Linked DNA regions of Homo sapiens. The protein of the gene in region 1 purifies or fractionates together with the protein of each later gene. This does not show direct contact. Each region holds a gene or a part of one and is shown on either strand. Other genes may lie near its edges. The genes, in order: ODF2, YLPM1, ZC3H11A, DSG1, ALDH1L2, MTCL1 and SRSF10.

Region 1 (3,500 bases):
CGCCCGGCTAATTTTATACATATATATATATATATATATATATATATATATATATATATTTTTTTTTTTTTTTTTTTTTTTTAGTAGAGACGGGATTTCACCGTGTTAGCCAGGATGGCCTCGATCTCCTGACCTCGTGATCCGCCCGCCTCGGCCTCCCAAAACGCTGGGATTACAGGCGTGAGACACCACGCCCGGCCTCTTGCCTACCTCTTAGAGATGCTCACAGAAGCTCTCGAGGAAGACAGTCACGGGTCTAAGTCATGCTTTGCCAGGTACCAACAGTGTGATGCTGGGAAAGTCACTTAACTCCTCCCCAAGCTCAGTTTCCTCATATTTAAAACTGGGATAATACCAGCTAACTAATAACATGTTCTAAGCTATACTGAGCGCTTCTCTATGCCAGGTAACATGCTAGGACCTTTACCAGGATTATATCATTGAAGACTCACACCACCACCATGAAAAGATTATTATCAGCCAGGTGTGGTGGCTCCCGCCTGTACTCCCAGCACTCTAGGAGGCCTAGGTGGGTGGATCACTTGAACCCAGGAGTTCAGGACCAGCCTGGGCAACACGGCGAAACCCCATCTCTACAAAAAATACAAAAATTAGCCAGGCATGGTGGCATACGCCTGTAGTCCCAGCTACTTGGGAGGCTGTGGCAGGAGAATTGCTTGAGCCCAGGAGGTCGAGGTTGCAGTGAGCTGAGATTGCACCACTGCACTCCAGCCTGGGTGACAGAGTGACATGATAGATAGATGATAGATAGATAGATAGATAGATAGATAAACTCTACCTTGACCCTTTCCTCAAAAGGAGGAAATTGAGCTTCAAAGGAATTAAATGATTTGCTCAAGATCACAATGCTGGTAAGTGGCAGAGCTGGGCCCCAAGGCCAGGGCTTCTGATTCCCAAAGCCGTACCCTTCACCTCTGACTGCCTCCAACAATCCGTAAATAACAGAGAACGGTCAGATCAGAAAGGTCTTGGGAAGGGTGACTGGCAAGAAAGGGCAGAAAAGAGTGGGGAAGTGCCCCCACCACAGTATACTGGCTGCTCCATTCAAACTGGGCCCTCCTGGCAGGCCTGGACCAGGCATGCCTTTTGGGACAGGTGGTGCCTACAGGTGGGCAGATCCTGATCATGCTGTCATGGAGTGTCTCCCCAGGCTGAGAGGCCCCCTTGCTCTCTCCCACAATGCTTACCACTGAAATGGAAGCAGCTTTTCCTCTGAGGTCTGCCTAGTACCTTCCAGGGCCTCGAGTCCCTCAACACTTCCGCACACTAAGCAAAAAACAGCTAAGTGGCTGAAAGTCTCAGGTCCTAGGAAGAGGACAGAGATGGGACCAAGTGCCTCTAACCTCTCCAGTTCATCCACCTTCAGACTCAGCTGTTTATTTTCCTTCTGGGAAGCCTGATGTTTCTCTCTCGCCATCTCCAGCTTGTCCCCCTGGTGTTCGATCTAAAATGACAGGAACACAGACTGGTTTACAAAGGAATTTCCCGCTAGAGCCCTCCCCTTTCCCTATGACCTGTTGTCCACACCCAGGAAAGGGGCACAGTGCCCTCAGCAGGTGTCCAAGTCTCAACGCACAACCTAGAGGAGAAAGGACAGCAGGGACAGGTTAGGCCCAACTCCAAAGACAAAAGGCTCTCCCCACACTGGGAGAAACCAGGTTTGATGCTAAAGAATGACAAAGATGCTTTCTCGATCAGGGGAGGCCACTCAGAGAGACCCAGCTAGGATCCAGGACAGACATGAGAAGGCAGAAACAGCTGGCAGGGCTAACTGGCCCATACAAACCAACCACAGAGCTTTACCTGTTATGTTGCTGGTACTATTGATCTCAACCTCCTCTTAACTGGGGACAAGTGCAGGCAAGACAACAGGAAATCTGTCAATCCTTTTGAGTTGGCAAGTTTGAGAATTTACCCAGAGGGCTGTTTTATGCAGAAGCCTCAGCTATCAAGGCTCAAAGTCCCTGAGAATGCTCAGGTTCAACGGAGAAGGCAGGCAATGTAAGGTTACAGTACTGAGAATGTGGGCTTGGGAACCAGACAGAGCTGGCTGGGTTCCAATCCCTGCTTACTAGGTACTAGCTCTGTGATGGTGGGGAATTACTTCTCCTCTCTATGCCTTGGGCTGCTTTCTGTAAAATGGGGAAAATAACACATGCACCTCACAGAGTTCCTGATGGAATTAAATGAGAGAATGCAGGAACACAGAAGAGGTGCTCAAAAAATGGTAGCCCCTTTTCTAATTATCACAAGTACACACGTCAAGAGTGGGAAAGGGGCCTTGCCCAAGGTCACGCTGCAAATGAGTGGTATATAATTTCTTGGACACTGCAGGCCGTAGGCATGGTTCCAGTAACCCAGAGACAGACTGCTTCTGGGAGAAAGGGATGCTTGCTTCTTTCAGGACAGAATCTCAGGCAGTGCATCTGTTAAAGAGTCAGGAGAAGCAGCTAAAGCAAGAGAAAAAAAGAAATTCTACGGCTCGGTGTCTGCTGGCATCTCCCAGCTGTGGGTGTGGAGCTGAGGACAGCTGCGGAGCACACAGGCAGAGGCAGCAGTCTTGGGTGGGGGCAACAGCAGGAGGGCCCAGTGACTCCACGCAAGTGACGGCTCCTATAACTACAATCACTTTGTGCAAACACATGGCATTTGGCACACCAGACTTTTATTTCACAGCACTGATGATAGCTCACTCCTTTTAAAAAGCAGCAGCCAAGAAAAAGGAAGTAGTCCTCCCTTGGGGGGCGTGCAGCTCATCTTGGTATGCGGGCCCCTGCTCGGGTCAGTTCGTGGGACCCTTTCTGCCAGTCCCTTACCCGGCTGCGCAGGTCTGATATGATGGCTGTGAGGTCGATGTTCTTCCGCTCATAGCCCTGCAGTTGGTCTTGGCACTCAGCCAGCTTCGCCTCCGTGATCTTCAGGATGTCAGGGAGCTGCTGCAGGTCAGCCAGCTGAGACTGGAACTGCCTTCGTGCCTGAAACAGGAAGGAAAGACCCACAGGAAGGAAAGACCCACAGTTAGGAAAGACCTGGCTCCTAGTGGAGCCAGGCAGAGTCCTTTAGAGTTAGGGCAGGGCTGACACAGTCCCCAGTGGAGGATCCTGCAAAATCCACAGCAGAAGTGTGGCCTACACTCCCCGCTGGCCATTGAGCAGGTGGCTTGCCATTCATTTAGTTATCCCGTAACAATGGCAACCACACAGTAAACACCAAGACCCAGGCATTGTACCAGGGGCTCTCTGCACACTTGCTCATTTAATTCAGACAACCTGTAAAATAGGTGATGCTGTCCCCATACAAGTATAGTAAGCATCAAGAGAGCTAAGTCATTTGCCCAAGGTCATTCAGCTAAAAACTGGTAAACACAGGATTAAAGTCTAGTCTAACTCCAAGCCAGGTGCAGTGGCTCACACCTGTAATCTAGCACTCTGGAAAGCCAAGGGGCGCAGATTATTTGAGGTCAGGAGTTCGACACCACC
Region 2 (3,500 bases), on another chromosome or scaffold:
CGGCCTCTAATGAGCCCAAAGAACTGGGATTACAGGTGTGAGCACCCAGTCCTCCTACTTATTCTTTAGAGTTCATTTAAATATCACTTTACAGGCCCGGCGTGGCAGCTTACGCCTGTAATCCCAGCACTTTGGGAGGCCGTAGCAGGTGGATCACGAGGTCAGGAGTTCAAGACCAGCCTGGCCAAGATGGTGAAACCTCTTCTGTACTAAAAATACAAAAAAAAATGGCCGGGCACTCTGACTCACACCTGTAACCCCAGCACTTTGGGAGGCTGAGACAGGCAGATCACCTGGGGTCAGGAGTTCGAGACCAGCCTAGCCAACATGGTGAAACCTCGTCTCTACTAAAAATACAAAAATTAGCCAAGCGTGGTGGCAGGCGCCTGTAATCCCAGCTACTCCTGGGAGTAGCTGAGGCAGGCTGAGGCAGGAGAATTGTTTGAACCCGGGAGGCAGAGGTTGCAGTGAGCCGAGATCGTGCCATTGCACCCCAGCCTGGGCAACAAGAGTGAGACTTCGTCTCCAAAAAAAAAAAAAAAAAAAAAAAAAAAAAGATAAAAATACAAAAAAATTAGCCGGGCGTGGTGGCAGGCACCTGTAATCCCAGTTACTAGGGAGGCTGAGGCAGAAAATTGCTTAAACCCGGAAGGCGGAGGTTGCAGTGAGCCGAGATCGCGCCACTGCACTCCAGCCTGGGCAACAGAGCGAGACTCCATCTCAAAAAAATAAAAATAAATAAAATAAAATAAAAACAAATAAAAAATAAAAAATATCACTTTACAAAGGGAATCCTCTTTAATTAGGTTAGCGCTCCCAGCTATATTCAATTATTTAAAATATATTTGTTCTCCACCTCCTATGCGCTAGATCCTATGCAAGGTACTGTGAATACAGTGGTAACTTAAAAAAAAAACAAAAAACAAAAAACTTGCCTTTGCCAGTTCCTTGGGGAATAATCTAGTGATATTTTATAATCCCATAGCACTCTGTACGTCTCCTCTTAATTACTTACTAAATGTCTTCTCCCTTCCCCCACAACTGAAACAAGAAGTCAATGAGGGCAGGTCCCATGTCTATCTTGTTAACCATTTCATCTCCAGTATTAAGCACAGTACTCATAGTACCTGGCACATAGTTGCTAGTCCGTAAGTATTTAAACATTAAATAAATGATACCTCTAAAAACTAATCAAAGCCAACAGCTTTAACTAAATAAATCAGTCCTTTAAACACATAGAAAAATTAATTATTCAAAAAGACACATTCCGACCGGGCGCAGTGGCTCACGTCTATAATCCCAGCACTTTGGGAGGCCGAAGCAGGTGGATCACTTGAGGTCAGGAGTTCGAGACCAGCCTGACCAACATGGTGAAACCCCATCTCTATTAAAAATACAAAAACTAGCCAGGCATGGTAGCATGCACCTGTAATCCCATATACTTGGGAGGCTAGGGCAGAATTGTTTGAACCCAGGAAGTGGAAGTTGCAGTGAGCCGAGATTTCACCACTGCACTCCAGCCTGAGCGACAGAGTGAGACTCTCTCTCAGAAACAAACAAACAAAAAAACACATTCCATTAAATCATCAACACTTTACCCGAAAAACTAGAAAACACCTGGAAAAATATCAAGTATTTATCTTGTCCTTCCTATACCAACTGTATTTCCAATCAAATATCTGTGGCAAAAGTTTTTCTTTACATAACTCCATATAGTAACTGTGGAAGAAATGGCAGAAAAAAAAAATCACCAGGTTGCAACCTCTGTCTAATGAAATAATTTACTTAGGCAAGGTCTTTCTTCAATTGATGAACCAGTAGACTGAAACATTAGATGCAAGATTGATAGAAAGCTTTACAGTAGAGGGACCAATGGCATTACTAACAGTGGGACAACCAGGCATCGGGTGTCCCATGAGGAATGCAACACTTGCCAAAAGAAAGCTGAACTTAAATGAAGGTTCCAGAGTTAACTTCTAATTCAAAAAAAAAAAAAATGTGGAAGACATAGGAACAAGTCAAATGTGACACCATGAAAAAGCAGACAATGCAGAATGTCAGACATTCTACAGGAAAACTGACAACAGATTTTTCATCAAGTTCAAAGACATGAGGTAGAAAAAGAAAATAGGAGGGACTGACCTAGGTCAAGGGTTCTCAACAGAGGGTAATTTTGTCTCCAGGGGATACTTGGCAATGTGTGGAAACATTTTTGGTTGTCGGACTGGGGGCTGCCACTGGCATCTAATGGGTAGAGGTCAGGGACGCTGTTAAACATCCTACAATGCATAGGACAAGCCCCTCCACAACAAAGAATCATCCTGCCCAAAATGTCCATAGTGCCGAAGCTGAGAAACCCTGATCTATACTAAGAATCTTTTCAGTATTCTGTTTGGACTCTGACTTGAACACACCAAAAAAACATTGTTTGGGAACAGACTGTGAGGACAGAAAACAACAACACTGTTGAGTCAATTTGGGGTATTTTAACATGGATGGTATCAAAGAATTATTTTTAGTTCATTAGTATGATGAAACAATAAAGGAAATCTGAACGGATCAGGTATTAGATGATACCAAGAAACTGTTAACTTTGTTAGGTGTTAACAATGTGTTTATCTAAGAAAGGGTCTTGGCCGGGCACGGTGGCTCACGCCTGTAATCCCAGCACTTTGGGAGGCCAAGGCAGCTGGATCATGAGGTCAGGAGTTCAAGACCAGCCTGACCAACATGGTGAAACCCCGTCTCTACTAAAAATACAAAAATTAGCCAGGCGTGGTGGCATGCACTTGTAATCCCAGCTACTCAGGAGGCTGAGGCAGGAGAATCGCTTGAACCCGGGAGGCAGAGGTTGCAATGAGCCAAGATCGCGCCACTGCACTCCAGCCTGGGCAACAGTGTGAGACTCCATCTCAAAAAAAAAAAAAAAAAAGAAAAGGTCTTGGTTTTGTTTTGTTTTGTTTTATAGAGGTACTTGACTAAGAATGTAGGGATGAAATGACATAAGATCTAAGATTTGCTTTAAAATATTTCAGCAGAGGCCAGGTGTGGTGGTTCATGCCCATAATCCCAGCACTTTGAGAGGTCAAGGCAGTGTACTGTTTGAGCTCAGGAGTTCAAGACCAGCCTGGGCAACATAGCAAAACCCCGTCTCTACCAAAAAAAAAAAAAAAAAAAAATAGCCAGGCATGGTGGCATGCACCTGTAGTCCCAGCTACTTGGGATGGCTTGAGCCTGGGAGGCAGAGGTTGCAGTGAACTGAGACTATGCCACTACACTCCACCCTGGGTGACTGACAGAGCAAGACCCTGTCTCAATATATATATATGCAACAATAATAAAAAAGGCCTAGGTGAAGTAAACATGGCAAAATCTTGATAGCTGTTGAATCTCAATGATGGGTATGTATGGGGAATCATACTTTTTTCTCTATTTTGTGTATTTTAAAAATATTTCACGATAAGAAATTTTGAATGACACATTCCAAAAACAAAATATGA
Region 3 (4,006 bases), on another chromosome or scaffold:
TCCCATCTGCTTTATCATCAAGTGTTTCCTTTCTTAGTAGCACAACTATATCCTTTACCCAAGTTAGGTAAAATGTTGCCACCTAATTAGAGTTCTGCTGAGCCACTACCCCAGGGGGACCTTGGGCTCCTATTATATGTGTAATATATTTAAGTATATTTTCAGTGTAAAAGCCAGAAAGGATATATGGTAAGTTAATGAGAGCTATTTCTCAAGAATGAGATTAATAGAGATTTTAACTTTCTACTCTCTATATTTCTGTATTGTTTCTAAAAAAACTTACGTGTATTAAGTTTTTTACTTTTTTTTTTTTTTTTTTTTTTTGAGATGGAGTCTTACTCTGTCGCCAGGTTGGAGTGCAGTGGTGCGATGTCAGCTCAATGCAACCTCTGCCTCCCAGATTCAAGCGATTCTCCTGCCTCAGCCTCTCGAGTAGTTGGGACTACAGGCGCGTGCCACCACGCCTAGCTAATTTTTGTATTTTTGGTAAAGATGAGGTTTCACCATGTTGACCAGGATGGTCTCGATCTCTTGACCTTGTGATCCGCCTGCCGAGGCCTCCCAAAGTGCTGGAATTACAGTCGTGAGCCACCGCACCGGCCACGTGTATTACTTTTATAACCGGGGGAAAAAGTAAAAACATTCAAAAGGGAAAATAAGGGACAATGTTAATAATGAAGCAGGGATGAGACTGCTGATTGCGACCTCCAACTAACTCTCCTGAATTTTGTCACGAGCATGAATTACTTTTCCAATACACAAATTTGCTTTAAGAAATCAAAGAAACACCCCCCCAAAGCCCAATCTCACTTCTTCAAGTAAAAAATAAACTAACAAATCATTCTACATTGCATGCTTAGGAAAAGTACAGTTTATTTCTAAATTAAATGTATACATGGTTTGGGAGATTTACTCATTAAGCAAACACTTTGGTAAGAATAAATTGAGCGCTTACTGAATGGCAGTCTCAGTTCCTGCGGCCCTCCCGCTTATTACCTCATTTGATTTAAAAACAAAAACAAAACGTTATGAAAGCCGGCTTCGAGGCATTCCTCTGAAGGGAAGGGACTCCCCGACCCAGCGCCTCCCCCGTCACGTGACCCTGTGACCCGGAGCAGCCATCTTAGGCATCGCCTCATAGAGGAACTACATCTTCCAGAATCCTCGCGCCCTGCGTCGTGCTGGCACTTTTACCGGCCGGGCCTTAGAGCGGAGCCTGTAGCCAGGCGCCATCTTTGACGCTGGCAGTCTTGGTTTTCTGCTAGTGCTGCTGCTGCTGGGAGGACGACGGACGGCAGCGGCCAAGCAAGAAGAAAGACGTGGCAGCAAGCGGGAGTCGGGGATAGTGTCATCGGTTCGGTAAAGTTTCTGTTCTCTGGTAACTAGACCCGTTTTTTTGATTCCCGGGTGGCTTGGGGCCGGGGAGGTGGGGGAGAGGGCGAGGGGAGTGGCAGCGGCCTCCCCTCGCCCCTGGGTCGCGGCCTATCCCGGGAAGTCAGAGCGGATCCTTCAGCTTCGCCGTAACGACCCCTCCCCCCCACCTCCCGGTCGCGGCCCTCGCCGGGGCTGGCTGGGAGCCCCAGGCTCCCGCTCACTTTTCCCATCCTCCCCACCCCCACCCCGTTCACCCCACCCCCACGGCGCCTGCTCCTTTCCCAGCCAACCTTCCTCCCCTCCCCCACATCCGGTGTTCGCTAATCTCGAGGAGCCCGGAGCAGCCCCGAAAACCGACTGTTCCCCCGAATCCCGAAGAGAGAACTGACACTAGATTGCTTTCTTCGGGGCAACAGTTTCTCTAGTTGAGCGGACCCTCACTGCCTAAATCAATCAGACTGAGTGCCGGGCGCTGAATTTACCTACTCTCATTCCTCTCCAGGGTCCCGGTACTTTGGAGCTTGTCTCAAACTCCACATACAGAAAGCCACCGACCTTATTCCGGTATCCTACACCCATTCCCCACTCTCATTACACTCCCACCCCTGGCCCTCAGCGTCGGAGTCAAGAGCAACAGGGACACTTCCGTTCTCCTTGTAGGACTGGTGAAACCGTAATGAAGAACACCCCTAAACTCCCATAATCGGTGCGGATTCCTATGGGGAAGGCCTATATTGTTGACATCTTCCAGGCCTTGGTTCTGGACCTTGAGAAAGAGGCTGTGGAACTAGAGATAGCGATGCTTTTTAGGGTAAATGTATGTAGGTATTGGGGGAAGGGGAGGGATCAATCGAAAAATGGAAGTGGTTTAAAGTTCATATTTCACTTTTTGCTATCTCTATAGCGTACAACTTGTGAGTTACTTACAGGCTGTAAAAGCTTCTCAAGTCTAAAAATATCTGAAAACTAAACTTGAATTAACTCTTAATACAAACAGTACTTTGAAAATGCAGCATTTAACCTTGTTTTAAAATTTTTTTCTCAAAGCATTTTTTTCCAGCCACTCACATTTTAAAAGGTTGTATTACTTTTAGTTAGAACTGAAAGGGCTCAACTAGCATTTGCTGTGACCAGTATGCGGAGTCTGTGTTGGCTTTCCAGAATTGACTTTTTGGGTTGTATTGGCAAATCACAGTCCTAAATGATGAATGTTGAATGATGCACTATGTTTTTGTTTAAATGAGATTTCCTGAAAATAGTTAATTTCAGAATTAAGGGAAATTGATGTCGCTATCATGAGGCATCATAAAAATATGTATTTTACAAGGTGAAGGCATTTCAAGTAGATATAGTTCTTGATGAAGCAGGAAGAACATGGATCTGGGATTTGGAAGACCTGGCTTCTAGCTGCTACTAACCAACTCTGTGACTCTGGGAAAGGGGGACTCAGTTCTTACTTCTGTAACATGAGGACACTGGACTATTTGAATTCAGAACTTAGAAAATTGGAAGGGACCTTAAAGCCCTCTAAGAAAGAGTTCGGGAATGTTCTCCATTGCTGTCAGTTTTCCTCCAAAAATAACCTGGCTTGGAAGTTATTGGTCCAGTGGGAATTTGATTCCCCATAGAAACTGGAGAAAAGGTAATGCAAGTAGAGAGGAACAGCTGTATTTCTGCTTGAGTAATAAACCCACTAACAGATTCTGGTACGAATTGTGGAGACATAAAGAGAATGAGTGTATGTACTCTAAGTGTACCAGTTTCTTCACTCTCTCCTGGCAGAAGATGCAACACTTTTAGTGATTCTGGGATTCTGGGATGTGTTCCTATTAATTCTAATACAGATGAAGAAGATGTGGTAGAGGAAAAGATGGTAGCAGAAGGAGTGAATAAAGAGGCAAAACAGCCTGCTAAAAAGAAAAGAAAGAAGGGTTTGCGAATTAAGGGGAAAAGGCGTCGAAAAAAATTGATTCTTGCCAAAAAGTTTAGTAAGGATTTGGGATCTGGGAGGCCTGTTGCAGATGCCCCTGCTTTGTTAGCTTCCAATGACCCTGAGCAGGATGAAGAAAGTCTTTTTGAGAGCAATATAGAAAAACAGATCTATCTACCTAGTACTAGAGCCAAGACCTCCATTGTGTGGCACTTCTTTCATGTTGACCCCCAGTACACCTGGCGGGCCATTTGTAACCTCTGTGAGAAAAGCGTCAGCAGGGGTAAACCAGGTAGCCATCTTGGTACATCTACTCTTCAACGACATCTGCAAGCAAGGCATTCACCTCATTGGACCAGGGCCAACAAGTTTGGAGTTGCTAGTGGAGAGGAGGACTTTACCTTGGATGTGTCTTTATCTCCCTCTTCTGGAAGCAATGGAAGCTTTGAATATATTCCTACTGATCCATTAGATGATAATAGAATGGGCAAGAAGCATGATAAATCAGCATCTGATGCCCTAAGGGCAGAAAGAGGGAGATTTCTCATCAAAAGTAACATTGTCAAGCATGCTTTAATTCCTGGAACTAGAGCCAAGACATCTGCCGTTTGGAATTTTTTTTACACTGATCCTCAGCACATCTCAAGAGCTGTGTGTAATATATGTAAAAGAAGTGTGAGCCGGGGTAGGCCAGGGTCCCAC
Region 4 (3,500 bases), on another chromosome or scaffold:
AAACCACAGTGGTAAAGGGAAAGACGAGTGTGATATTCCTCAACCTCACCAGTAAGCAATATTCGTCAAGACTACATCTATCACTAAACACACACTAGAATCAGAAGAATCCTTGACTCCACAGGAGATTTAACTGAGGCCCCACATTAAGGTTCAGGCTCAGGCATTGCTAGTTTACCCTGAAGAAACCTCATCCTATTGCCACTCTCTAATGGAATTTTCCTCCTAGGAAACACTTCCTAATTTGGAATTTATTTTCTCTAGTGCAATAATTAAGGTAGGAGTGCTTGATGGCTTGTGGACTTGACTATGTAGTCAAACTTAAAAAAAATGGTTAACCCTTGTATAAATCTGTGGTTGAATTTTTATTTATGTTATCTGTGAAACCAACAGGGCATCTGGCACACATTTTAGATTTTTCCCATAGATATGAACATATATTGCATATTTAGTTCTTTTTGAATTTTGCTCGAGCTATATGGAAAAGCAAAACAGAGCAAGGAGAATGATGCCAATTGCCATCGTAAGGCCAGTTACATGCTGGAGATGGACTACAGGCCACTCAGGCACAAAGAAGACTCTGCCTCAAGTTTTAGTTCCTTAGTCCTAATATAAGAGAAAAGTTTATGAATGCTAAGGAGAGCTCTCCCCTAGCAGTGGTGTTTCCATTTATTTTTCTCATTGTGATTTCTCACCTTGCTCCTAGATGACCTGAGCACGAAGTTGTGCGTTATAAATCACATTGTTGGTTTTTTAGTGGTGGGAATTGGATCTAAACCACAATGACTATGAAAAAGTGAGCTGGGGTCCTGACTACTTGCTATATTGCACGGTACTATACTTTGTGATTCGACTTCGAGCTGTGCTAGGGGAGGCGGACCCAATGGTTTGGTTAAAGTGATGGTCAGAGGAACTCCTCATGTGGCCAATGCTGGCTGTCCCTCCCAAGCTGCTCAGGCCAATGCCACCACCACTTATGCCAGCTCCACTCAGGGCACCGCTCCCAGCACCCATGCTGGTGCCAACCAGGCCACTGCTGCCTATGCCACCGCTGATCCCAGTGGTGCCACTAATTCCAGTTACGCCAGCACCAGAAACAACCCTCTCTGTCACAATGACATTGTGGGCATTGGCTAACTCGGGGTGCATACTCAGACTACCTATCATGCCGGAAGTTGGTTGGATTACTCTTTCTGTCACTACCACATTTGAAGACTCTCTAGGATGATGGATAGTCAGAGAGGTGGGTAGACTAGAGCTTGGTGCTATTACCCTTTCTGTCACTATAACATTCGACCCATCTCGCAAGTCAGGCATCTCTAACATTCCATGCAAATCAGCGCCAGAGATTGGGCCGACCACTCTCTCTGTCACTACCACGTTTGATGCTGGTCGGTTATCGTGAACGTGCACAGAGGGCTTCAGAGTGTCAGAGGTGGTGTAAGACTCGGTCACAGTGACATTACCATAGCCCAGAGGATCGAGAATAGGCTTAGGATGCAGTACACCAGGTCCCGAGGGATAGGTGCTCTCAGAAATTACTGTGGTAGTGCCGAAATGTGGGGAGATTGGTGGGTGTCCACTAACAACGGGCTCTGTTTCCTGAGGAAGGCAAACTGGTTCAGTGCTTTGTGGTGGCCAAGAAGGATCAAGGTCTGGATATGATTCTTTTCCTAGGCTGATGTCTGCCAACTTCTTAAATTTAGGTCCCAGGGTATCCAAGAAGCTGTCATCCAGGTCTTCTCCAATGAAGCTACAACAACCCACAGAGCCAGCAGGGGAACCTACACCTTCGATGTCATATATGAGCAAACAGTCATTAGATGGGCGTCCTTCATCTTCATCTGCGTAAGCATATGCTTTCTGAATTTATAGGAGAAAGAGAAAATGAAATTATGAATGCATATTTAACAATAATAGAACAGCCTTTATCATTAGTTTTTCTTCCAGAGCATTTCCAAAGAGGAATGAAATAAAACAAGATTTTAACATACTAGAGATGCTCTAAAAATCATTTTATAATTATTTGAAATAATTTGGTTAGAAATCATTTTAAGTATAATTCTAATACTATGATTTTAAAAATTTACTTAGATGGACTTATTTATAATTGTGTACTTTGGACATAAAACCATACACAAAAAAATCACATGAATTGGTTTCGAGGAGGAGCCAAGATGGCCGAATAGGAACAGCTCTGGTCTACAGCTCCCAGCGTGAGCGACGCAGAAGACGGGTGATTTCTGCATTTCCATCTGAGGTACCGGGTTCATCTCACTAGGGAGTGCCAGACAGTGGGTGCAGGTCAGTGGGTGCGTCCACTGTGCGCGAGCCGAAGCAGGGCGAGGCATTGCCTCACTTGGGAAGCGCAAGGGGTCAGGGAGTTCCCTTTCTGAGTCAAAGAAAGGGGTGACGGACGGCACCTGGAAAATCGGGTCACTCCCACCCGAATACTGCGCTTTTCCGACGGGCTTAAAAAACGGCGCACCACGAGATTATATCCTGCACCTGGCTCGGAGGGTCCTACGCCCACGGAGTCTCGCTGATTGCTAGCACAGCAGTCTGAGATCAAACTGCAAAGCGGCAGTGAGGCTGGGGGAGGGGCGCCCGCCATTGCCCAGGCTTGATTAGGTAAACAAAGCAGACAGGAAGCTCGAACTGGGTGGAGCCCACCACAGCTCAAGGAGGCCTGCCTGCCTCTGTAGGCTCCACCTCTGGGGGCAGGGCACAGACAAACAAAAAGACAGCAGTAACCTCTGCAGACTTAAATGTCCCTGTCTGACAGCTTTGAAGAGAGCAGTGGTTCTCCCAGCACGCAGCTGGAGAACTGAGAACGGGCAGACTGCCTCCTCAAGTGGGTCCCTGACCCCTGACCCCCGAGCAGCCTAACTGGGAGGCACCCCCCAGCAGGGGCACACTGACACCTCACACGGCAGGGTACTCCAACAGACCTGCAGCTGAGGGTCCTCTCTGTTAGAAGGAAAACTAACAAACAGAAAGGACATCCACACCAAAAACCCATCTGTACATCACCATCATCAAAGACCAAAAGTAGATAAAACCACAAAGATGGGGAAAAAACAGAACAGAAAAACTGGAAACTCTAAAAAGCAGAGCACCTCTCCTCCTCCAAAGGAACGCAGTTCCTCACCAGCAACGGAACAAAGCTGGATGGAGAATGACTTTGACAAGCTGAGAGAAGAAGGCTTCAGACGATCAAATTACTCTGAGCTATGGGAGGACATTCAAACCAAAGGCAAAGAAGTTGAAAACTTTGAAAAAAATTTAGAAGAATGTATAACAAGAATAACCAATACAGAGAAGTGCTTAAAGGAGCTGATGGAGCTGAAAACCAAGGCTCGAGAACTACGTGAAGAATGCAGAAGCCTCAGGAGCTGATGTGATCAACCGGAAGAAAGGGTATCAGCAATGGAAGATGAAATGAATGAAATGAAGCGAGAAGGGAAGTTTAGAGAAAAAAGAATAAAAAGAAATGAGCA
Region 5 (4,024 bases), on another chromosome or scaffold:
GTGCCAAGATAATTACAAGTGACAGATGACAAGCTTTTCTGGGAAACATTGTCCAAGAAGGAATAGGCAAGAACTGCAGTCAAGCAGAATTACATATGCAAAAGAGCAGTGAGAAATAAGAGAAAATGGCAAATTGCAGACGGCCCTGAATGCTGGGCTAAGAAGTCTGGCTTGAGATAAACGTCCAGCTAAAGCAGGTCTGAGCGTTTTTTCCAGAGAGGTGAGGGAGAAGGGCACGTATCTATTAGGTTGATGCAAAAGTAATTGCGGGTTTGCCATTATTTTCAGTGGCAAAAACCACAATTACTTTTGCACCAATTTATTTATTTATTTTTAAGACAGAGTCTCGCTCTGTTGTCCAGGCTGAAGTGCAGTGGCATGATCTCAGCTCCACTGCAACCTCCGCCTCCCCGGCTCAAGTGATCCTCGTGCTTCAGCCTCCCGAGTAGCTGGGACTGCAGGCATGCGACATCACGCCCGGCTAATTATTTTATTATTTTATTATTTTTTATTTTTAGTAGAGACGGGGTTTCACCATGGTGGCCAGGCTGGTCTCGAACTCCTGAGCTCAGGCCATCTTCCCTCCTCGGCCTCCCAAAGTGCTGGGATTACAGGCGGGAGCCACCGCGCCCGGCCTACCGTCCTACGAGGTAGGCATCAGGATCCCTCCACAGCGAAGGCGCCCCCACTACCTATCTGTCTACAGGCGTGCCTTTTACGGGCTGTGCTATGGACAGCACTTGGGATGTCAGATTGACCACTAATAAGGTAGATCCGTATACACTGCTGCGGGGCTGAGTAACTGGTAGAGGGTCCCACAGTTAGAAAGCACCTGGACCTTGGCTGGAATTGGCGGAAAGTCCAGGCAGCGGAGAGGCGCGGTCCCTGGGACTGGGTGCGCTCTTGGCACCAGGGTCAGGGCCCACAGGCTCCAGGAAGCCCACGCGCTCCGCCGGGTCGCACCAGGTTGGCTGTCCGAACGCAGCCAGCTGGCGGGGCGGGGCCTTCCAGCTGGGGGCGGGGTCTTGACAGCTAGGGGGCGGGGCCTTGCAGCTGGTAGGGTGGGGCGGGCCGCGGGCTGTGGGCTTTGGGAGGGGTGCGGACTAGCAGAGGCCGAGAGCGGCGAGCCGCGAGCCAGGCAGTCCGGGGCATCCAGACTGCAGGCCGCGCCCAGGCCGCGCCCAGGCTGCGCCGCCCGCCTGCCTCCCGCGCTGCCGCGTCGCCAGTGCTAGCGCTCCTCTCCAGCATGCTGCGGCGGGGCAGCCAGGCGCTCCGGCGCTTCTCCACTGGCCGGGTGAGTCCGGCCCGGGCGAGCGTCCCGGCTGTCACCCTGTCCTGGTTTCCAGACTCCGGGGCGGGAGGGCCGGGGCGGTGGGGCTGGGGATGAGCAGCGATGCTTAGACTTTGCTAAACACCAAGACAGCGTTTAAAACAAACAAACAAACAAACAAAAACAGAGAGACCTCAGAGGAGGGCTTGGGGAGGGTCCCGGATGGGAACTGGCACGCAGGCCATTGTCTTCTGCCGGGAGGGGGCTGAGGATGCAGTTTTTGGACGTGTCAAGTCTGGCTGGGATGGCAAGGTGGGAACAGTCACTTGGTAAGGAGGACAGAGTCTGCTTCCTTTCCTTTTTCACTTCAATCATGAGATCCCTGGTCAAGAGCTGGAGCCATATGGAACCGAGACTGTCTCCTGGAGGAGGGGAGTATCAAGTCAATAGGGTCCTCGTTGGCGGCCTGGGAGGTGTAAGCGCTCGAGACTGGCACGCAGGGCCGGTTCAGATAATGGCACTCAAAGCTGATGGCTGCAAGCTCAGTATTCCTGAGCTGAGCTGCAGATGGCAAAATTTCTAGAATTGCCAGGCGCTGCAGAGGCAGCCACGCTGGAACACTATTCTACTGTAGCACAAGAACCGAGCTCTGGCCCAGCCCCGCGCCTTGGAATTGCATCAGCTCCTCCAGAAATGGAACCGAGAGAGGACACGTTGCACTGCGGTGCTGCCTTCAGCACCCAGGGGGCCTCGGGACTGTTTAGGGAAGAGAGAGAGAGAAAAAAAAAAAATAAAAACTGTCTTATGTATCGTATCTTTTATAGGAAGTACATAAAAGAATTTGCTTATCGATTCTTTTTCTCGGCCATGCCAAAGCCATATGTACATATGTATATATTCAGATGTAAAAAACTTGGAGGCAGAGAGAAGTCTTGAGTAGCACCAAAAACTGGCCCAAACTTGCATCAAAGGAAAAGCTTTCTGTATCCCAGACAACCCCAAATAATAAGAATTCGTTTTACTCTTTGCAACCAGTTCTAGTTACTTTGAGGTATAGTCACCTTTTATAAAACGAGGGGTGGGGGTGGGGAAGACCTGCTCTGCTAGGACTTTGGCCTGCTCTCCTGGACCCCTCATTAGCTTCCCCCACCACGTGGCACATGGGATCCCAGATGGATAGCACAGAAAGCAACGGGCTGTGCCCAATGCCTGAGCCTGTTTTGTTGGCCTCCTCTGTCAACACCTTTCACTGACTTGTCTTTTTTGGTGACCAGAAGGAAGTCTTGCAGAATGAAAAGATTTTGATAGTGCGGTTTGCATAAGATTTCAGTAATAAAAGGTAAACATCTCAGGTGGCAAATGGCATAAACAAAACTATGGATGTGGGGAAGAACTGGCGTGATCAGGGTCTAACTGTACGCAGGGGTGCATATGGAAAAGCAGTGATACTCATGGCTGGGAAGAAGACAGTTTCCTCAGTGGTCGAAAGGAAGCTACTGAGTGGTGAATGAAAAATGTGGGATGTTTTATCCTGTAGAAAATGTTCTGGACTGTGTTTTATAAGAATTATTCAAAATCAAACAGATACATGGCTGGTGGAAATATAAAATGGTACAGCCACTTTGGAAAACTGTTTGGCAGTTTTATATGTAGTTAAACATAAACCTATCATATGACCCCGGAATCACACTCCTAGGTATTTACTCAAAAGAAATGAAACCTTATTTGCCCGCATAGAAACCTGTTTATTGATGTTTCTAGAGGTTTTATTCATAATTGCCAAAAACTGGAAATAAATTGTCCTCAGCTGGTGACAGGATAAACAAGCTGTGGTATATCCATCCATACAATGGAATTCTACTCAGTTGGGGGAAAAAGGAATGAACTACTGATGCATACAACATGGATGGAACTCAAATATGTATGCTAAGTGTAAGAATCAGACTCATAATGCTACATATTTTATGATTTCATTTATCTGACATTTTGGAAGAGTAAAACTATAGGGACAGAAAAAAGATCAGTGATGTCTGGAGCTGGAGATAGGAGGAAGGATTGATTATAAATAGGCATAAAGGAATTTGGGCGGTAATGGAACTGTTCTACATCTTGATTATGGTAGTGGTTACGTGACTGTGTGTTTGTTAAAACTCACAGCACAGTACACTGAAGAGGGTGCATTTTACCCATGCAAATTATCTTTTAATTTTTATTGTTTTGAGACAGAGTCTCACTTTGTCACTCAGGCTGGAACGCAGTGGCACAATCTTGACTCACTGCTACCTCTGCCTCCGGGGTTCAAGCAATTCTCCTGCCTCAGCCTTTTGAGTAGCTGGGATTACAGACATGCACCACCATGCCCAGCTAATTTTTGTATTTTTAGTAGAGACGAGGTTTTGCCATGTTGGCCAGGCTGGTCTTGAACTCCTGGCCTCAAGTGATCCTCCTGCCTCGGCCTCCTAAAGTGTTGGGATTACAGGCATGAGCCACTGTGCCCGGCCTAATTATCCCTTTATCTTTAAAATTTAAAAATCAAACAATGCTTTTAAGTTTAGTATTAAAGCAGAATGAAGGATGAATAAAAATAAAGCTTTCAGAACCTAGCAAAATCCAAGGGGAAAATTAGTTTATAACACTTCTTGATAGAATTCATTTCTCCATCCTCTGTCTTAAATAAAAGGACTTAGAAATACTTAATGATTTCAGCTTAGTGATGGCTGGATCTTTTTAACTAAAACAATGGTTTGCTTTAAA
Region 6 (4,088 bases), on another chromosome or scaffold:
GGAAATAACCAGTTGCACCAAGAATGAACTTCAAAATGATGGATAGCCTACCTTAAGATCAAAGATGCAATGAGAAACTTCTTTAAAGAAATACAGTTTTCCCTTGCACAGCAGTCATTTGGATAAACATCATTCAATCAGAAAGTAAGTCAGGGGTTATGCTAAGAGCCAGGGATACAAAAACAACAAGATTATCTTGGTCACCCTCAGGGAGCTTACATTTGTTGAAGATTTACAAAAGAGCTGCTTTCATGATGGAGTCACCCACAACATAGTTGCCTTTGAACTTCACTCCGTTGTCTATTACCTAAGAGTAAGTGACAAAAACAAACATACTATCTGAAATATCTTGCTTTAAGTCCCAATCTTTCTTTTATCACCTCTCTTTCTCTGCCTCACTGTTACTTCTTGCACAAAGTAAAATAACCACAAGGCTCAGTTGGTTGGAGCAGCTCCATAAGAAATTTAGGCTTGAGATCACCCAGCAGTTAATGTGCTCTGATTTCCGTGTGAACTGCAGACTTCACCACCATGCACCTTAAAGCCCAATCCTCAATCTCACTAGCCAAAAACTGGGCCCGTATTGGTTAGCTCATCATTTGCTGAGAAAACAGCTCAAATCACATAACCCACTGAAGAAGCAGGGCCACACCCCTGGGTTTGGTTGGCTGCTCATTAAGACTTAACAGATACACAGATTGATGCCACTGGAGTTGTTTACTAACCTGAAGATCACAATAAATAAAACAGTTGGTGTCAATACAACTCCCCTTATTTTCTCTCAAGTCACCTGGATCGTCCTGACCCCGGGAACCCCGTCTGCAGCACCAGGCCCCCTCCGTGGAGAAAAGATGGAGCCGGATTAAGCACCCAGTGCTAAGGCGACTAAGACGCCACTGCCCGCAGGCCCTGCCGGAAAATACTCAGAGAGTGCAGCAGGCGCCGCGATTCCTTAGAAAGTGCTGGCGTGGCCTCTCCTGACACAGAAAGCCGGCTCCTGGATGCTTACAAAGGACTGGCCCGCGCAACACCGTTGCTCCTCAACCCGGGCCACACTCCAAGGACCTCTACTGAGCTTCAGCTTGCTCACCGAAAACGGCGCGGCCCCCTCTACCCGGGATGTCGGAGCCCAGGAGACCCTGAGAGCCCCCAGCTCTTTCCGTAATTGCAGGAGAAGGGGCAAGCGGGTCCGTAGCCGGGGGCCCTCCAGTGGCATTATCCTGAACCGCCACGCCCGCACGTGGCCCGGCTAGAGCTCCCTGGCGAAGGATCACCTGTTCCTACAGGTGAGGCTGGCACGTTCTGAGCGGGGATGGGGGCGTCCGCTGATGTCCCCAAAACGATTACAGCCTCCTCTGCCCCAACAGGTCAACAAAAGTAAAAGTATCAGCGAAGAGACGCAAGAGTTCTAGACGCGAGAAAAGAGAAGTGGGTTGCGAACTGGCGGGGTCCCACAGGTCTTGCTTCTCCTTCCAGAAGTTTGGGCTTAAGTTGCCAATGCCTGACAATGCGGGGGTAGGACCGTGGAGAGCAGGAGGGAGAAGGCGCTGGACAGGCCCGGGAAGGAGGGGTTGGCGGGTCCCCGCCGCAGCCAGGCCCTCCGGGGGCGCCCCGGGACACCTGCGGCCGAGGCGCGGCTCACCTTGAGATAGTCGTTCTCCGAGCGCAGCTCCTCCATCTCCCGCAGCAGCTCTTCTTCCTCCGCCGCTGGCACGAGCCGAGACTGCTCGCCCAGGCTGGGCTCCTTGGGGGTCCCGGGGACTGGTCGCTCCGGTGGCGAGCGCCCCCGGACATCCTCCGCCACGCCGGGCCCCGCGAAACCCCCCGAAACCCCGCTCGGGATGCTCCGGCCCCCGGGACAGGCGCCCGCGGCGAGGGGCGCGGCGAGGAGCGCTGGGGGCTCGGGGCTGCCCGGCGGCGCTCCTCGGGCTGCGGGGCTCGGCGTCGGCGCTCCTCGTGGGGGTTCACGGTCGCTGGAGCCCGTGCCGGATTCGGCGTCGCTGCTGGCGGCAGGGAGCAGGCGCTGCTCGTCGGACAGGGGTTCGGAGGGGCAGTCAGAGAGGTCGGAGCTGCTGTCCGTGTGGCTGATGCGCGAGCAGCGGGCCGGGGACCCGGCCACCGAGGTCACCGCGAGGGTCACGGCAGGGATCCGGGCGGCCGGGGTCGGGGGGCCGACGGTGCGGGCGGGTGGCGCCCGGGAGCCGCGCTTGGCTTTGCGGCCCTTGGCAGCGGCAGACGGCGGCTCGGCTCCGGGAGGCTTCCCAGCCCGGGACAGCGGCTCCGCGGGCGCCACGCGCGCCGCCCTCCTGCTTCCCAGGGCAGCCTTGGCACCGCCCGCCGCTCTGGCCCCGGCGCCCGGCGGGGGCTTGTCCTTCGCGCCCGGGACGCCGCCACTGCGCCGAGAGAGGCGGCCGGGCGCGGCCAGGGACCCCGGCGAGGGCGGCGCTTTGCCCGCGAGGTTGGGCGAGCGCGGGGCGGCGGGAGCCGGGGCTCGGCCCGAGGAGGGGACGGCCGGGCCGGGCGCGGCGGGCCGGGCGTGCAGGTCCTTGAGGAAGGGTCTGGCGGGCGAGGGCGCACGGTGCAGCCGCCGCCTTTCGGCCACCGGGTGGAGGTGGTGGTGGCGGTGGTGCTGGCCGGGCGGCTGCAGCTTCGCGTCCGGGGCACCTCCGCCCGCGGGGCCGTTCAGTGTCTCCATGGCCGGGTCCGCCGGCAGCAGCTCAGGCAGCAGATGCTCCGGACGACGACGGCGGCGGCGGCGGCGGCGGCGGCGTGCAGCCTCCCCGCGCGCTCTCTCATCACTGTCCCAGCCCCGCCCGGGCTGCGCCCCGCGCTCCCGCCGTCCCCGCCCCCCGCACCCCGGCCCCGAGGATTCCCGCGGGGCTCGCCGCCGCCGCGCTCGCCCCTCGCTGAGGTCACCGCGGATCGAGTTCTCCCGGCTCAGCAGCGCGGCGGCTCCCGGCCGCTCGCATCCCCGGACCTCGCGCTCCGGGCTCGCGGTCACCGGTGCCGCGGCGGCGCTGGCGGCGCGCGCCCGGCTCCCGCGTCCCGCTCCCCGCCCACCGCCGGCCCGCTGCTGCCCGTGCCCGCCCCCGCCGCTCCCGGCTGAGAGAAGCCGCACGCGCGCGCCCCACCTCCCCGCCGCCCAGCGCCCTCGCCCAGGCCCGTGCGCATGCCCCGCCTCCAGCCAGCCGGCGCCGTGCAGGGGAGGGGCGAGGGAAGGGGCGGGGGCTTGCGCTCCCCGGGGGGCGGGCGCCCGGCAGGGGCGGGACCTGCGCGCCCTTGGGAGCAGGCGCAGGCTGGATCCATGGGGCCTCGCTGCCCGGGGACCCTCCTTGCTTTTTGAGGCCCTAGAGACGCTGCCAGGAGCTAGGGAGGAAGGGAAGAGGCGGAGGTGAAGTGGTGGCAAGGGGCGGCGCCGGCCACTTGGGGAAGGCGTGTGCCGCGGCTGACAACACCCCTCTCATGCCTCTCCATCCACCGCCCGCCTCCCCGAGGCCAGTCACCTCCCTCGCTGTCCTCTCCAAGCTGTGCCCCTGGTCCCCGAGCTCCTTTAAGGATCGCTGGTACCCGACGCAGCTCTCGCGTCTAAACGGCACGGCGGGCGCTCCACAGTTGGCACCCCCGTGGCCTCGGGAGCTCAGGAGGAGCTGCTGCCCAAACAGGAGGAGCCCTCGCCAAACCTGGGGGTCAGAAAGGGAACTCACATTTATAGTTCCGGCTGCGAGCCAGGCCTGCTGGCCACTTACTGAGCAGTGTTTTATTTAAGCCTCACCACAGTCCCAGATTGGAATTGCTGTCTTCGGTGAAGACTAGGGCACCGGCGCTGGGAGGTGAAGTCACTTGCCTGCGATGCCTCACCCAGTCCCTAGCTGAGCGGGTTTAAACCCAGGTCTTCAGGATTCCGAGTCCTGCAGGCTTTCCGCTCAGAGCCCGGAGCCCGGCCACCGGTTCTACCACTTGAGTCTCCCATGCGCAAGGCACTAGACCTTTCTGAGCCCCAGTTCCCTCGCCTGTATCATTAAAACGTACTGCCACCTGAGCATGTGTGAAGATTTAGCAAATACCAGAACACACCGTGCAAACTGTAA
Region 7 (4,191 bases), on another chromosome or scaffold:
AGTGGTTCTGACCCTACAAGACCACCAGAGCTGTTTCTAAGTAGTCCCCAGTGCATGCACCTGTCTCTCCTTTAAGCAGGGCTCTGTGGCTTAACCCCAGAACCCCACGCTACTCCAAAGAGCACTGCCTGCTACTCCGTGGCATCTGACCACCTGGTCCAAAACCAAAATATGCTGAATTTAATCTTAAGAATATACATCCTGTTACACTTTAACTTCATAAGAGAGAGTGCATTTACACAAGACCACAATCACAACATCAAAGGCCCACATAAATCAAGTTACAGGTTTTGTCACTAGACCAAACCAGAATAATTTTGAAAATTAACTGCTTACAAAACATTAAAAAAAAAAAAAAGAAAAATAGTTATTCTGTAGGATACATCAGGTATGACTCCTTTAATCTTGGCCATCATTCAACTTCATCTTGACCTTTAACTCTTTAAGTGCTTGTCAGAAGGACTTGTCATGAGATGCTTGGCCAAATATGACAGATGGCTTTATCTTTAACTTTGAAAAACAACCTTTTCCCCCTTTTGTAGATAAAGCGAGGCTTTGTCTCCCATTAGGCTTGTCCTTCTTCCAGCTTTTCTTTATTTTTTCTTTTCCCAAACTCTCCCTTCTCTTCAAGCCTGATCCTTAAGAGGTCTTTGGCTTGTCTACTTGCCTTAAGTGTTGAACTCTACTCTAAAGGTTCTTTCATGCTTTCTCTTTGGGGTCGCCATAACTGTACAGCTTTACATTCTCTGAGGTAACAACAGAGGACAGCAAATTAGGGGACAATATTAAAGAAGTTTACCTCATTGTTATACAATTTGTTTTTGATCAAGTGATTCAAATTAACAAACAAGAATACCAAATTTTAATTGCTAAGCACAAGAACATATTAACTTTTAAAGGACTTACATTAAAGGTAGTAGCAACCAGAGTGCATTCAAATTTAAATCACATATATAATCATCGATATGAGTTTCAGAAGCATGAATGGGAATTTATATATTTTACCATTTTTGGATTAACTTTAATAACGAGAGCAATGTGTGAGTCAGAATTAATTTTCAAAAATTTGAAGACAGACATTTATTAGAGGACAAAAAGAACTACTTTTTAGATGTTACCACTTACATAAACTTGAATTTCAAACTTCAACACCCCTCACTAATCAGCCATCTGAAGAAAGGATATTGAACATAAGCAAATCCTCTTGGACGGCGAGTGTAGAAATCAAGTGGAACATACACATCAACTATAGGACCATAACGACCAAATTCACGCCGCAAGTCTTCAGACCTAAAACATCATAAAAAGACCTCAAATTTTTATGTCCAAGTCCTTAAGATGTATAGGCAATATATCTTTTTGATGAAGGAAAGCTAGGATCCAAGAATTTGGAAGATAAAAATGCAGTTTACATTAACAGGACAACAGCAGACATATGTATGGTACAAGGGAATGACCACAACTTATTTTTATCTACAGCCGTCATTTTTCATAAAAGGTACAGCAGCATTAGGTTGTATATAAGCCTTGTTTTTTTTTTTTTTTTTACTTTTACAGCATCAAATCGACTCTAGCACTCTGAAAAATACCAAGCACTTATTTTTACTCCCCAATTTTAGCGACAGATTTACACACTTAACAGTAGATAAATATGGTCTGAAAAAGTCACAAATATCGAACTTCTTAAATAGTTAAGTGTCAAGATGACGTAAAGAGAAAATTTCTCTAGATGCTAACGTAACTATTAGAAATTATGGAAAGAATTATTTATGGAAAGAATTATTGCTTTCTTTCCTTCTTAAATTTAAGACAAAAGCAAATCACAAAGCTAGCAAAAAACCCCCACGAAACACCAAAAACCCAAACCACTTATTTTCTGTGTGTAGATTCATTATTTGTGAAATAAAAAGCCTCATCTTGTAGTAAGAACTCTTCCAAAATAATCTGAAGGCAACTCGAAACAAGGGAATGGTGAGAACAAAGCCTATTTAAGGTACGTCTGAATTAATCTAACTTAGCTGTCAACGTCCTAATGACTGACGCTTCCCAAACCTCCCTTTTCAAAGGGTGACCAGAATTTCCAGGAAATAAGAAAAACTACTCGCAACATTTAACTGGAAAAATCTAACTCCCCAAATCTCAACGCTCCCTTTCTCCAAACACCTCCAACTGATTAAAACCCCCAAATATTAACAACGGCAACAACAACAAAGATAAATGGTAGCAACATTCCTCTCCCTCGATCCCGTTATTTCATCTCACTATTTTTTGGCTGGGGAAAAAAAAAAATCTCTGGGCCAAGGGGGCGTGAACCTCGAAGAATGTGAACTTCAAATCAATGGGGGGCGGCCGTCGGGTCGCGGAAAGGCCGCGGCGGGGGGCTGCTCGCGCCGGCAGGAAGCAGGGAGAAAGGGGCTGCAAACTGCGGAGGGGGAGGGGGACCGAAAAACCCCGCCACGCGGCCCGGCGAAGGCAGAGGCGCCGCCCTCGCTCCCACGCGGCGGCTGAGGCCCGCTGCGCGGCCTAGTTCGGCGCCAAAGCGGGCGCGGGACCCGCCATCTTCACTCCGTCCCCTCCCCCGGCCCAGTGCCGCCACCACCAGGGTCCTCTCCAGGCGCCTGCGGCCTCCCCGCCTAGGCCCGGAGTACCTGCCTTGTACCTACCTGGTGTCGTCGGCCACGTTCCTGACGAACAGAGACGTGTTGGGGGGACGCAGGTAGCGGGACATGGCGGCGGCGTGTCTCGGCCGGGCGCACTAACGGGCTCAGCAAACCGTCCGCGGCTCAGGCGGCCGAGCCTCAGACACACACAGCTAGAGGGCTCTGCTACGGCAACCGACTCTTCTCGCGAGACTTCACTCCCGCCTCCACTTCCCCCTCCTACCTCCGCGCAAAGTCGGGCGCAACGGTTCTTTCCCGCGAGAACACCAGGCGTCCGCCTGCGCATGCGGAGGGCTGGCGCACGCGCCTCAGCGTCGGTGTCATTCGTTGGCTTCTTGCGGTGCCTCTTACCCTCCCCCAAGCCTGTTCTTTCTTTCTTTAGGTCTTCATTTCCCGCCGTTTTCTACCTTACACTCCACTTCATCTCCACCCCCAAATCAGGAAGCAGATGTTTTAGTCTCTAGGCCAAACTTTGCGGTTACTACTAAATGGACAGATTTTTAAACTATTTAGTTCAGAGAGGCTGCCTTAAATTTCCCGGTTGGTCCAAGTTAATGTCCTGCTTTTATTTTGCCTTAAATTTCCCGTTTGGTCCAGGTTATGCCCTGACCTGCGAAAGAAGGATTTACAGCTTGTATTGAGTGTGTAAAGGAAGGAGGTGTGTGCCCTTGCGCAGAGCTGGGCCTGTCTCTCCAGTGTTTTCAGCCTGCCTTTGCCCCTCACCCACACCCTAGCCATCTCCACTTAGTCACGCATTTGGCTCCCAACCTGGGTGGGACCAAACCTCACACTGTAGGTTCATGACTGTGGTCATTTGTAGTGTATTCTTTGTTGCTGACGGCTTCCTGGGTATGCATCGGACCTGTATTGCAGCAGTTCTCAAACTTTTTGGTCTCAGAACGCCTTTATATTCTTGTGTATTACGGAAGATTCCAAAGAGCTTTTTTTAAAAAAAGTGTGGGTTATACCTATTAATAAATAGTTAATGAGAACTTAAAATAGAGGAAACTTCGGCTGGGCTCGGTGGCTCACGCCTGTAATCCCTCCCTGTACTTTGGGAGGCCGAGGCGGGCAGATCACGAGGTCAAGAGTTTGAGACCAGCCTGACCAACACAGTGAAACCCCATCTCTACTAAAAATACAAAAATTAGCCAGGCGTAGTGGCGCGCGCCTGTAATCCCAGCTACTTGGGAGGCTGGGGCAGAAGAATCGCTTGAACTCGGGAGGCAGAGGTTGCAGTGAGCCGAGATTGCACCACTGCATTCCAGCCTGGGCGACAGGGTGAGACTCCGTCTCAAAAAAGAAAAAAAAAAAAAATAGAGAAAACTTTGACACACTCCACTACCCTTTATCACACATCATGTACCCTCTGGAAAACTCCACGTTTGTAAGAGAATGAGCATGAAAATAGCAAATAATCTTTAGTATGGTTTTGATTTTGGAGGCCCTTTTGAGAGCCATTTCCTGCTCGATAAGAGTCAACTTCTGGAGATGAGAGACTTCAGTTGGAATGCCTCCAGCGTGTGGCACA

The links.
Region 2: the proteins of ODF2 (region 1) and YLPM1 purify together in Homo sapiens (co-immunoprecipitation; one large-scale study listed by IntAct). This does not show direct contact.
Region 3: the proteins of ODF2 (region 1) and ZC3H11A purify together in Homo sapiens (co-immunoprecipitation; one large-scale study listed by IntAct). This does not show direct contact.
Region 4: the proteins of ODF2 (region 1) and DSG1 purify together in Homo sapiens (co-immunoprecipitation; one large-scale study listed by IntAct). This does not show direct contact.
Region 5: the proteins of ODF2 (region 1) and ALDH1L2 purify together in Homo sapiens (co-immunoprecipitation; one large-scale study listed by IntAct). This does not show direct contact.
Region 6: the proteins of ODF2 (region 1) and MTCL1 purify together in Homo sapiens (co-immunoprecipitation; one large-scale study listed by IntAct). This does not show direct contact.
Region 7: the proteins of ODF2 (region 1) and SRSF10 purify together in Homo sapiens (co-immunoprecipitation; one large-scale study listed by IntAct). This does not show direct contact.

Annotation. Positions count from the first base shown.
Region 1 is NC_000009.12:128,494,006-128,497,505, reverse strand, and holds part of ODF2 (outer dense fiber protein 2), read right to left. Parts: intron 2,997-3,500; coding exon 2,838-2,996; coding exon of another isoform or gene 2,775-2,837; exon of another isoform or gene 2,666-2,774; intron 1,466-2,665; coding exon 1,365-1,465; coding exon of another isoform or gene 1,209-1,364; intron 1-1,208. UniProt on the Homo sapiens protein: Seems to be a major component of sperm tail outer dense fibers (ODF).
Region 2 is NC_000014.9:74,766,316-74,769,815, reverse strand, and holds part of YLPM1 (YLP motif-containing protein 1), read right to left. Parts: intron 1-3,500. UniProt on the Homo sapiens protein: Plays a role in the reduction of telomerase activity during differentiation of embryonic stem cells by binding to the core promoter of TERT and controlling its down-regulation.
Region 3 is NC_000001.11:203,794,417-203,798,422, forward strand, and holds the start of ZC3H11A (zinc finger CCCH domain-containing protein 11A), read left to right. Parts: upstream 1-1,206; 5' UTR 1,207-1,378; exon of another isoform or gene 1,379-3,106; coding exon of another isoform or gene 3,107-4,006. Other genes in the region: ZBED6 (zinc finger BED domain-containing protein 6), read left to right, coding at 3,107-4,006. UniProt on the Homo sapiens protein: Through its association with TREX complex components, may participate in the export and post-transcriptional coordination of selected mRNA transcripts, including those required to maintain the metabolic processes in embryonic cells.
Region 4 is NC_000018.10:31,352,660-31,356,159, reverse strand, and holds part of DSG1 (desmoglein-1 preproprotein), read right to left. Parts: intron 2,261-3,500; exon of another isoform or gene 2,224-2,260; intron 1,864-2,223; coding exon 814-1,863; 3' UTR 1-813. UniProt on the Homo sapiens protein: Component of intercellular desmosome junctions. Involved in the interaction of plaque proteins and intermediate filaments mediating cell-cell adhesion.
Region 5 is NC_000012.12:105,081,659-105,085,682, reverse strand, and holds the start of ALDH1L2 (mitochondrial 10-formyltetrahydrofolate dehydrogenase precursor), read left to right. Parts: upstream 1-1,224; 5' UTR 1,225-1,246; coding exon 1,247-1,294; intron 1,295-4,024. UniProt on the Homo sapiens protein: Mitochondrial 10-formyltetrahydrofolate dehydrogenase that catalyzes the NADP(+)-dependent conversion of 10-formyltetrahydrofolate to tetrahydrofolate and carbon dioxide.
Region 6 is NC_000018.10:8,704,268-8,708,355, reverse strand, and holds the start of MTCL1 (microtubule cross-linking factor 1), read right to left. Parts: upstream 2,801-4,088; 5' UTR 2,696-2,800; coding exon 1,643-2,695; intron 1,599-1,642; exon of another isoform or gene 1,217-1,598; coding exon of another isoform or gene 1,091-1,216; exon of another isoform or gene 220-1,090; intron 1-219. UniProt on the Homo sapiens protein: Microtubule-associated factor involved in the late phase of epithelial polarization and microtubule dynamics regulation.
Region 7 is NC_000001.11:23,977,528-23,981,718, forward strand, and holds the start of SRSF10 (serine/arginine-rich splicing factor 10), read right to left. Parts: upstream 2,801-4,191; 5' UTR 2,729-2,800; coding exon 2,664-2,728; intron 1,291-2,663; coding exon 1,186-1,290; exon of another isoform or gene 1,126-1,185; intron 1,102-1,125; exon of another isoform or gene 384-1,101; intron 1-383. UniProt on the Homo sapiens protein: Splicing factor that in its dephosphorylated form acts as a general repressor of pre-mRNA splicing. Seems to interfere with the U1 snRNP 5'-splice recognition of SNRNP70. Required for splicing repression in M-phase cells and after heat shock.